3 linked regions of the Homo sapiens genome follow. The protein of the gene in region 1 interacts with the protein of each later gene in a pairwise test. Each region holds a gene or a part of one and is shown in the gene's direction. Other genes may lie near its edges.

Region 1 (3,650 bases):
CATTTACACAGTGAGGGGTGGGGGAATCAGTAACATGTGAGGAGCCCGTCATGCCGCCACGTGGGAGTGTCCTCTCTCCTGCTCACAGGGAGTAGTTAGGACTGGAGATGAGCCCAAGTTTGTGAATCTTAACAAGGGTGTTGATGCCTCAAGACTGGACATAATCACCAAGGAAGTTGGTGGCAGTGCAGAAGTGCACACTGGGGTGCCAACATGAAATGGGGAATGAGAGGCTAGGAGGGAGTAGCTGGTGCAAGTAAAGATGGGAACACCTGCTGTGGGTGCTGCCAGGATGGTGCAACTCAGATAGAACTGACCACTAGGATTTGGTAGGCGTTGACACATAATGATGACATGTGGGGCTGCAGCACAGGCTGCCCCTGGCTGTTCACCCTTTGGAGCTGCTGTTCTCCCACTCTAGGTGGGTCTGGCCTGCCCAGCTTCAGAGCATTGTGAATGTCAGCAACAAGGAGTGAGAAGAGTGGTCACAGCAGGATACAGGCCCACAGCAGGATACAGGCCCACAGCAGGATACAGGCCCCACAACAGGACACAGGCCCACAGCAGGATACAGGCCCGCAGCAGGGTACAGGCCCGCAGCAGGGTACAGGCCCCACAGCAGGGTACAGGCCCCACAGCAGGACACAGGCCCCACAGCAGGACACAAGCCCAACAGCAGGACACAAGCCCAACAGCAGGACACAGGCCCACAGCAGGACACAGGCCCACAGCAGGGTACAGGCCCACAGAAGGGTATGGCCCACAGCAGGGTACAGGCCCCACAGCAGGACACAGGCCCACAGCAGGGTATGGCCCACAGTAGGGTACAGGCCCACAGCAGGACACAGGCCCAACAGCAGGACACAGGCCCAACAGCAGGATACAGGCCCACAGCAGGACACAGCCCCACAGCAGGACACAGGCCCACAGCAGGACACAGGCCCACAGCAGGGTACAGGCCCACAGAAGGGTATGGCCCACAGCAGGGTACAGGCCCCACAGCAGGACACAGGCCCCACAGCAGGACACAAGCCCAACAGCAGGACACAGGCCCAACAGCAGGATACAGGCCCACAGCAGGACACAGCCCCACAGCAGGACACAGGCCCACAGCAGGACACAGGCCCACAGCAGGGTACAGGCCCACAGAAGGGTATGGCCCACAGCAGGGTACGGGCCCCACAGCAGGACACGGGCCCACAGCAGGGTATGGCCCACAGTAGGGTACAGGCCCACAGTAGGACACAGGCCCAACAGCAGGACACAGGCCCAACAGCAGGACACAAGCCCAACAGCAGGATACAGACCCACAGCAGGACACAGGCCCACAGCAGGGTACAGGCCCCACAGCAGTACACAGGCCCCACAGCAGGACACAGACCCTGTGGGGGCTGCCCTCCTATCATGGCAGGTCTGGGCACCATGACCCACTTTACCTTAGGGTCAGCATCTTGCCCCTTTGTACTGTGGCCCTGGCTTTTGAGTCTGTGTCTCCATGGCTGACTCCCTCTTTTTAGGTCCAAGATCAGGAAACACAGCATCAGCCCCTGAGACCTGGCAGCACCAGGCCCTCTTCAGGTCTTGGGCTGCAGGGGTGGAGGAAGAGACCCCGGCCTGATGGGAGGATGAATCCCTAGAGCTAGCCTGTCTGTAGACTCACCTGTGTTCTTGCCGGTTTTCAGGTCCTTGTCATGCCCAGCCTCAGAACTCGCCGTGAGGAGGCAGAGATGGAGCTCTCAGTTCCAGGACCATCCCCCTGGACCCCTGCAGCCCAGGCCCGTGTGAGAGATGCTCCTGCTGTGACCCACCCTGGATCTGCAGCCTGTGGTACCCCCTGCTGTAGTGATACTGAGCTGGAAGCCATCTGCCCTCACTATCAGCAGCCAGGTACTTTAAGAACAGTTCTCCGCTGGTGCCCTTATTCTGGGGAAGTGATGTCCATGGAACCCTGTGCTTACCCCTAGGAGGCATCTGTGTCATCACAGGTAGGGAGGGTGACGGGGTACTCTGACTCAAGGAGCCAAGGCTGGATGTCAGCAAGGAAGTTAACCTAGCCTGGCCCCTGGCACCTTGAGCAGAACTGTGATTTCCCCACTTGACACGAAGAGGTATGACATGATGGCCACCAGCGTCCTTTGATTTGCCCTATACTCCTGACCCCTTCCCAATTCAACAACCAGGCTGGTGGCAGCCCTCTCCCCTCAGGACTCTACTCTGGTCCAGGGCTTTGTACTGTGGTTACCCATACAGTTGGCCATCTAAAGCCTAGGAAGAAAAGCTGAGGAGTTTCTTGTGGGGAAATAGAGGCATTCAAAAGCACCCTTGGCCCGGGTGTGGTGGCTCATACCTATAATCTGAGCACTTTGAGAGGCCAAGGCAGGAGGATTGTATGAGGCCAGGAGTTCAGGACCAGCCAGTATAACATGGCAAGACCCTATCTCTACTAAAAAATTAAGAAAGGCTGGGTGTGATCACTCTCGCCTGTAATCCCAGCACTTTGGGAGGCCGAGGTGGGTGGATTGCTTGAGGCCAGGAGTTCGAGACAAGCATGGCTAACATGGTAAAACCCTGTCTCTACTAAAAGTACAAAAATTAGCCAGGTGTGGTGGCACATACCTGTAATTCCACCTACTTGGAAGGCTGAAGCACAAGAATTGCTTGAACCTGGTAGGCAAGGGTTGCAGTGAGCTAAGATCATGCCACTGCACTCTAGCCTGGGCAACTGGAGTGAGGCTCTGTCTCAGAAAAAAATACATAAATTTGAAAAAAAAAAAAGCACCTATATATTTTGGGGAATCCAGGAAGTCACATGCATGCGCAGGACTGGGTGTGTGCTCAGAAAAGACCTGTTAAGACCATAAGCTTTCTCAAGAACTCTGTCTAATCTCTAGGCTCAGTGAAGGCAGTCAACTCAGAAAGAGTTGTAAACAGCGTTTAAAAAGTACCCCAACACAGAGTCAATCCACAAAGACTGGGAGAAGTGTTTTGTGTTGGTTTTTCTCTTGATAAAATCTCTGTCAAAACACTGGTTGAACACAAGCTAAAGAAAAAGACTTCAGTGACTGTACTCGACAAAGAATAGTCTTTGCAAAAATAGTTTGGAAAAGTCACTAAATGAACATGTGACTCTAGTCTTCAACAATCAAAAACAGCAAAGCCTGGAGGGGGGATACCACATTTTAATATTCAGTTGTGCAGTTTTTAACAAAGCAAAAATCATGAAGCATATAACGAAGCAAAAAAATATGTCCCATTCAAAGGAAAAAAGTAAACTGACAAAAAGTGTCCTGGAGAAAGCACAGACATTGGACTTAAGTAGACAAAAACTTCAAATCAACTGCCTCAAATATGCTCAGAGAGGTGAAAGAAACCATAGAGAACTAGGCTGGGCATGGTGGCTCACACCTGTAACCCAGCACCACGGTGGCTCACACCTGTAACCCAGCACCACGGTGGCTCACGCCTGTAACCCAGCACCACGGTGGCTCACGCCTGTAACCCAGCACCACGGTGGCTCACGCCTGTAACCCAGCACCACGGTGGCTCATGCCTGTCATCCCAGCACTTTGGGAGGCTGAGGCAGGTGGATCACGAGGTCAGGAGATCAAGACCATCCTGGCTAACAAGGTGAAACCCCATCTCAACTAAAA
Region 2 (3,650 bases), on another chromosome or scaffold:
AGAGGTGAGTAAAACTTTTTTTAGAATTTTTAAAAATACTTTGATTCCCTTGGCTACAGTGATGTCTTCTCTTGGAAGGGAAGAAGTTACATTAATATTGACCATCCTAGATTCCCAAGAAAATTGTGAAGAATTATGATAGTCAAAACCTTTCTGGCTGCCTTAGAAAGTACCCACCCAATTTTCCAAAATAGGCGGGGCTACTGAATAAGACTAGGTTTATAAAATATTCATAAGAAATATAGAGTAAATAATCCAATAGAAGTTTGAGTTTTAGGATCAGCTTCTATGAAGCAGAAGATTTCACTGAGCTAGAGAATCTTTTCACTCCTTTGGAATTATTTGCAAAAGCACTTATTGTTAACACATTCTTAGCTCATGAGTTGAATTTGAGGCATAAGTACAGGTACGTATTGCTATGTATTTTTTGTTCTGTAGGTACATATTTTTATTTGACATGTTGGTAAAATTTTAAATTGTAGTTTGAAATATTAAACTGAGATAATAGTAAATGCATAATGTAATGAATTGTGAAGGTATATTTGTATACTACACCAAAATGGAAGCTGTTTTTAAATATATATATACAATTTTCTTCATAATAATCTTTGATTTATTCTTTTCTAGGAAACTGTAAGAAAGGTAAGAGTACACTACTTCTCCATAAATATCTAAAATTATCAGGGATAACATAATTTAACTAAATTTATAGTAGACTATAGAAGGAAAATACTTTATCAAAATTTTGTTCATATGAATATACATTAGCTAAAGCATAAAATAAAGTAGCTTTGATGTTTAAGATAACAAAGTTTAATTATCTTCTGGAATCATCTGTAATTACATTTATGTGATACAAACTGGTGATTTACATACAAAAGGAAAAAAAAAGACTTGTTTTTATTCTGGAGATGGAAGGCATATTATGTTAATTATAGGGAGTAAAAAAAGTTTATTTTAAAGGGCTTTGACTATATAAATGTGCTGTTAAAAATGTAACAAAATGATCATTTAATCTACAGTTATCATCTTATTCAAAATGCTATGCATAGTATTGACCTAATAGCTGAAGACTATAGCAGCTTCCAATCCTCCAGCTGAAAAAAAATTACGTATAATTACAATTAAAATATATACTTTTATCTATTGCATTGTGTCAATTTTTTATATGCTATCTAATAACATTGTAGTTACATCAGTCTTACCAACTAATTATTATCAAGAATGATTTGTTTGTTCACTGGAAATTACTTCTTAGGCATTTATTATTGTCCTGTTTGTATCTTTCCTGTAGGGCCCAGCCGGAGATAGAGGACCACGTGGAGAAAGGGTGTGTAATTTTTGAACTATAAAGGGCTTCGTCCCGTATTTGAATAACTATATGTTAGAAACTACAGGAACTGGCAATTTATAAGAATATTATGTATCCAGATAATTGTACACCCCTTTAAACAGGTAATGCACTGCAGAAGAAGCGAATGAGCATTATTATATATGATCAATATTTGTTTTAGGTCAAAATTACCGTTAAAAAAGAAAAACTGTTACAGTCATATTCTTTGCATGGTCTACTTTCTTTATTTGTAATTGACCCATCCAACACATGCATAATGGAAATATATCTACCTACCACCACAGTCCTCTTTTTAACACATTTCATTTGCTTTTGAACTAAGATCCCTTAGGTAGCTTGGAAATAATAGTGAATTAGTAGTCAGTAACATGTTTCTCTGCTCAAATTCATGCATGTACAAGTCAGGCTTACATTTTATTTGTGGCATTCTTAAATCTCCCTGCTATGCTTATTTGACATTTATAACTATGTGGTTTTGCATTGTATAACACTTTTGCCAATATATGAATACCTATATCTTATATCTATTAGGAAGAGGAGACTTACATGTATTTCACTCAATTTATTAGAAATAGAATTAAATCAGTTAATTATTTTAACAATACAAGTAGTTAATGATAGTAAATCTGCAGGATTTTCTCTCCTATGATAAAGTGACCTTATTAACTGTCACATCAGTTAATTCATTCACATGTAACATACCAAAACAATTGAATCAGTTTGTCACAGTCAGAGATCGGCAATAAAAATACGATGTAAGTCCTTGTGCACTGTTAAACATATGAAGCACGTGGAACCATACATTTTGGCTATAATTTTTATATTTGAATACTGGAGCTTCAGTATGAATTAATATTCAATGGCCGAGATAGTTCTTTAGGAAAACTACCCTGTGATATCTTAAGAGTTATTAACCCTCTTTCTAAAATAGACTCATAAGTGAATTTCAATCAATGACAAATATAGTATATTAAATTTCCACCCTACTTGCACATAGAAAGGTCTGAACAACTGATCTTACCACATATAATTCTTAGGTTTCTACAGGGCCTGTCTAACCTGACCTTACTCACTTTTTACATAACAGGGTCCACCAGGCCCCCCAGGCAGAGATGGTGAAGATGGTCCCACAGGCCCTCCTGGTCCACCTGGTCCTCCTGGCCCCCCTGGTCTCGGTGGGGTAAGGTGTCTTACGTATTGCTAACTTTTAGCTAACTTCAGTTGAAAGAAGGTTTATTGTGGAATTTATTTTTAGCAGTTAAGGGATAATTCTTCCATTTGAAAATTAGTATATTTTATTTCATTTATTTGGTTTTTTCACTCAAGATTCTGCTTTACCCATTCTCTTTGTGAGCCCTTGTCAATTACAGGACTGGTCTTTGTGTGCACTGAAGTTAGCTGTGGCCATCATTACCATTATTTAATTTGGAGATTTAATATCTTTTATTAGTAAGGCACAAATAAGAGGTGTTGCATTATTAAGGATTTTGATTAGATTGAACTGTGTAAGTGAAATCCCTGATCTTAAGCAATTTTACAAACATCCTACGCTTTTTATTCTCCTTGACTTGAAGTCTGCTGAACCAACATTCAAAGCGGTTTTAGGTTTAATTTGCTTGAAACTAATTTGAGAAAAGTACATTTCCCTTTTTCATTAATATCTTCTTTTAGCTTCATGTCTTTAACAATGGTATGAGTGCCAAATGACCTCACTGCAGGAAGGAAAACATATTTGCTTAATTGGTTAGCACTATGAATCAGAAGCCTGATTCTAATACCCAACTGTATGTCAGTAAAATAAGACCTTTCTCCCCCAAAGATCTTATTATGATTGCTTATCTATGAATTGCATTAAAAAGCAGCTTCTTTAATAGAGCTACCACTATAAGAGAGATCTTTAACAGTAAAGTTATTACTGTGAACTAGTTTTTAGAAGTTTTATCTTCCAAGGGGTATTTTAATTTAATTTTCCTCTAAACTTGAAAACTCTTTATGCCCTTCCTGAAACTCCAGCAAGAAAAAGATCTCTTAGTCATTTTGTGTAGCTCCGGTGGGGAAGGGCAACAGGTGAAAATGTGAAGATGTCCTCTTGAGCTCTGTCTAATTTGTCAGGAGCCCTTAGTAACATTAAAAGTTTAGAAAGCTTCCCTTCCTCAGAGTAGAGGTAAAAGGTGGGAGTGGAGACACCGAGTTAAGGCAGAGGAAGGGCTCAAAAAGTAAAGTAGGGAAGTTCTCCATTTCAAAGAGGTGTCGGCCAAGTTTTTGACGTACAGCTCTCATAACTTTTTAGGAATTT
Region 3 (4,232 bases), on another chromosome or scaffold:
GCCATGTACTCGTACTACAGATACAGGCCCCCCCACACACCCAGCTGCTGAGCTGTGAGCCCACATGCACTCATGGCTGATGGTCTCTGGTGGGCCTGAAGAGATCTCATGCTCTTCCACTCTCTGCTTCCTGACTTCTGCTCTCTGGTTTTCTATCCTCTTCTTTCTGGGCTGTGGCTCAGCCAGCTCCTGGCCTGGGAGGGCTGCGTATAGAGAAGGCCCGGCTGCCTGAGCGCTGTCCTCGGTGCTGGAGTCCTGGTGGGCTCTGCATGCTTGAGGAAAACAAGCAAGGGCATTGGGAAGAGGTGATCTTGCTTGGAGGTGCAGATGTTCATGGGGTGCCCACCAGGATGCCTACCCTTATTATTTCAGAAAATGTGCAACTGGGCTTCCTCCTTTCAATGGCAGACACTGCAACAGGTGTCCAAGCCCTCAGCCCAGCAGTGTGGGCATCTGTGGCTGTGTGTGGCTATATGGCCATTTATTGTGGCTATGAGGGGCTTCTTGAGACCTCGTGTGCCACATACAGTTGTGTACGAAGATCATGATTTCCTCATGAGACACCTGTGATTCCATGTGGCTGCCTGTGACCATGTTACTACTGGTGAACACATATGGCAGCCTGTGATCACACTGAGTCTCCTGTGACCTTGCGTAGCCTCAGACCTGAACTCGTGCGTCCCCAGATGATCTGGGCACTATCTGGTCTAGCTGCCTGATTTGTCAGAGCCTAGGTGAACACTTGCCACTCCCTCCCCTCACTGGTTTGCAGAGGTGGCACCCGGAGGCTCCCCATGTCTGCAAACTCGGGTCCTAGGGGGCGTTGGTGTCAGCGGGCAACAGCCCACAGGAGTGTGCACCTCCTAGGACAGGTAACCGCGACCCGGCTGCCATTCGAGCCTGCCCAGCCATAAAACCCAGGCTGCGAGTCGCGCGGGGGCAGGGTCGCGTGTTGATGGGGTGGGTGGCGGCGGGGTGGGCTCAATGTCACGCTCTGGCGCTCGTCGCCCGTGCTCCCCCTTCCAGCCGGTTTCCGCAGAATGCCAGGTACTGACGTTGGAGAGCGGGGCCGGAGAGGGCTGGTTCGCTCTGCGGCCGGGCCCCTCCCCCGCCCGGGAGCTTGGCGGTTCCGACACCGCGGTCAGTGCGGGGCAAGCCCCAGACCCGGCCGGCCAGGCTGCAGGGCAGGGAGTAAGGCTCGGTTGCGAGTGCGCGCCGCGCCCTCCCCCTTGAGCCGTCTCCGCAGCGGCGCGGGGAGGCGGGAGCTGCGGGGCCGGAGGGCGGGGGCTAAAAATACCCGGCAGCGGCGGCGGCGGCGCGGCTACTGCTGGGGCTGCTGGGCTGCGGGGCTGCGGGGCTGCGGGTCGGGGAGGCCGGGCCGGGCCGGGCCGGGCCCCGCTGACCGCCATGCTGACCTTCTTCCTCGTGTCGGGGGGCTCCCTCTGGCTATTCGTAGGTAAGTGCCCGTCCTGTCCGCGTCCCGGACTCCCATCTCCCGCAGGCTATGAGGTCTTCGCCCGAGGTGGAGGTGTTACATCTCCGCGGCCGCCGAGCCCCCATCCCCTGCTGCTGAGCTGTCCCGTCAAGGTCCCCAGGGCCGCCTAAGTACACCCTCCGCCCCCAGTTCTCGCGGGCTCCGGGCCGGGTTTGGGGAGCACCTGGGTCTGCGGAGGGAGATATAGGGCTTGCTCTCTGCGACCCCACCACAAACCCCCGCCGAGTTCTTGCGTCCCCCTTCCCTGATGGCAAGGACCATCCGCGGATCAGATTAGGCCCTGAGCCAAGGCCAGGAACAGACATTGCGTCCTTGTCCATCTCCTGGGACCAGAAACCGAGGGTGTTGGTCCCCGAGGTCCCACAGCAGGTCAGCTATGTAACCCGGACTGACCTAGGCTTCCTGATCCCGGCGAGGGGCTTCCTCACGACCCCTCCCTGCCCGTCCTTCAGCCAGAGTACAAGATTTCTGTAAGGTAGGGTTCACCTGGCTCCTCTGCTCTGCCCAGGGCTGCTGTGTCTCCACTGTTTCCAGACCCCTCCCCTCCACCTCACAGGAGTCAGCTTCACCACTGCACTTCTTAGGCGGCTACAAGGACCCCTGCTCGATCCCGCCTCCGCGCTTACCTCCCTCAACCCCCCATACACCCACACCTGGAGTCTCACCACAGGCCCTTTTATCTGCCAGTTCTACCACCTGCACCGGCTACTTCCCCTCTCTGAGCCTGGGGTCCTCCAGAGTATAATACCACTAAAGGATCTCCACCTCCACCCCAACCCCCATGTGCAGATTCAGCCTGATAATTTGTGTGCAGTGCTTGATCCTTAAATTGGCCTTAAACCTGTCCTAGGCCACAGCAAATGCTCTATGAATGTTAGTGTTTATTATTATCTCACATTCAAACAGCACCATCAGAAGTGGTAATAAAGCTTTTTCTGAGCCAAGGAAGGGGAGGAAGTTGACCCTCTTGAAATCTTTACCTGAGGCTTTGTACGTGTTATTTAATATTCATGGAAAACCCTAGGAGGTCGGTGGCACCATCCCTTTTTTTACTGAGTTCAGAGGTCAATTGACTTGCCTAGTGTCACATGGATATTTGGCAGACTGGGATTCCATTCGAGGTTTTAATTGATCAACCAATGCTAAGTGCTTGGCTGGATCAGGCCTGAACCTGGAGGGTTGGTGGGCCTAGTAATCACTTCCTTCACCCCCACCATTTCCTTAAGTTAGGCCACAGGGACACTTCCCCTGAGCTGGGAGAGTGAGTGAAGCCTCCCTAATCCCCTCAGCTCCCTAAGCTCCTTCTGTCTGCCAGTGTCTGTGACTGGCTGTGCAGGGGCACTCTGGTCCTGAGGCACATCCAGCAGACAAGGGCAGGGCTAGAGCTGGGGTTGGAGGTAAAGGGCAAGGATAATTAAAATAATGGTGATGGTGGTCGTAACAGCCACCATTTAATGCCTGAGTGATGGATGGTCTCAGAGCCTCTCCCCACTGCCAGGACCCCTTTGCCCTACCCTCAGGAGGCCCCACCCAACCATGGGTCCAAGGTCAGCTCTCTGAAGACTTGATCTTCTGTGGCTGCAGGGAGGTGTCTAGGGGCTGCAAGACCACTTGTGACCGGGGTCATCAGCAGCCTGTGAGAAAAAGTCCCTCACCCTGTGGGGTCCTTGTCTGTGAGCAGGGTTAGCTGGCACTGACTCAAAGTGGAGTCCTGTTTCCTTGTGGAGCATTTCCTAAAGTGGTCAGCTCCCTCCTCTAATGGGAAACTGGGGAATCTGCCTCACTGAGAGACTATACAGGGCCTCAGAACCGTCAAGCAGGAGCGATTCTTGGGGCAGGTAGTGGCTGCTTCCACAGAGGCCGAGCTTCCCAATGCAAAAAGCAAGAGGCTGAGGCTGGTCTATGGTGCTTATTGGATAGAATAACCCAGACAATTGCTGGGGCATTTTAAGTTATGTATCCACCCTCCTTGAGACTCCACCTGGCCCCCAGCCTTTCTCTGGTGGCAGAAGAGACTCCTGAGTTAAGAGCTGTAGTTCTGTGAGCACACCTGAGAACATGCTCTGCCTTGTCATCTCCAGGGTCCCATGGTCCCACGGCAGCTGCCAGATCCCTTCCACTCAGCCAGTAACAGGAGGCAATGTCTCTCTTTAGTAGAGTTATGTGCTTTTTGCCACCTAACCTGGCCCTAGGGAGACAAGGTAGGGCCAGGCAAGGGTTTCCCTCAAGGGCCCTCAGGGAGAGATGACATAAAGTCGGGGATGGGGGTGTGGCAATGCACCAGGAGGAGGAGCTGACTGTTGTTTGTGGGAGGTAGCCATCTGTTCTGGGCTGTGTCTGTCCTGTTGCCTGCTGGAGAGGCCAGCAATGAGTCCTGGGCCAGCCCAGATCTCACCTGTGTGTTGAATACTAAACAAGGAGACAAGTAAAATAAGTCCAGCATGAGTCAGATGCTAGGTCTGGCTTGGGGAAGCATGCCCTCAGTGCCATAAACACCTAGAGGACAATGGGAGCAGAGGATCAGAGCTTCTGCCTGCCTGTACAGCACCTTTGTGCAAAGTAGGAAGAAGTCTCACTCTTGGTGGATAACTTTCTAAAAGGGCACACCTTCCTCTAGGCTAAGGCAGCCCCATGCCGCAGGGTCTAATCTGTTCAATCATATACCCAACCATCAGTGACATATGAGTGGGCTTCTGCAGCATTCAGGGGAATTTGTCAGAGATAGGGAGGCCAAGAT

Evidence for each region.
Region 2: the proteins of ZNF16 (region 1) and COL1A2 interact in a two-hybrid assay, tested with the Homo sapiens proteins (one study listed by IntAct).
Region 3: the proteins of ZNF16 (region 1) and ACSL6 interact in a two-hybrid assay, tested with the Homo sapiens proteins (one study listed by IntAct).

Annotation. Positions count from the first base shown.
Region 1 is NC_000008.11:144,944,248-144,947,897, reverse strand, and holds part of ZNF16 (zinc finger protein 16), read left to right. Parts: intron 1-1,682; 5' UTR 1,683-1,691; coding exon 1,692-1,887; exon of another isoform or gene 1,888-1,985; intron 1,986-3,650. UniProt on the Homo sapiens protein: Acts as a transcriptional activator. Promotes cell proliferation by facilitating the cell cycle phase transition from the S to G2/M phase.
Region 2 is NC_000007.14:94,397,755-94,401,404, forward strand, and holds part of COL1A2 (collagen alpha-2(I) chain precursor), read left to right. Parts: coding exon 1-4; intron 5-627; coding exon 628-642; intron 643-1,294; coding exon 1,295-1,330; intron 1,331-2,441; coding exon 2,442-2,534; intron 2,535-3,650. UniProt on the Homo sapiens protein: Type I collagen is a member of group I collagen (fibrillar forming collagen).
Region 3 is NC_000005.10:132,008,729-132,012,960, reverse strand, and holds the start of ACSL6 (long-chain-fatty-acid--CoA ligase 6), read left to right. Parts: upstream 1-1,302; 5' UTR 1,303-1,407; coding exon 1,408-1,456; exon of another isoform or gene 1,457-1,505; intron 1,506-4,232. UniProt on the Homo sapiens protein: Catalyzes the conversion of long-chain fatty acids to their active form acyl-CoA for both synthesis of cellular lipids, and degradation via beta-oxidation.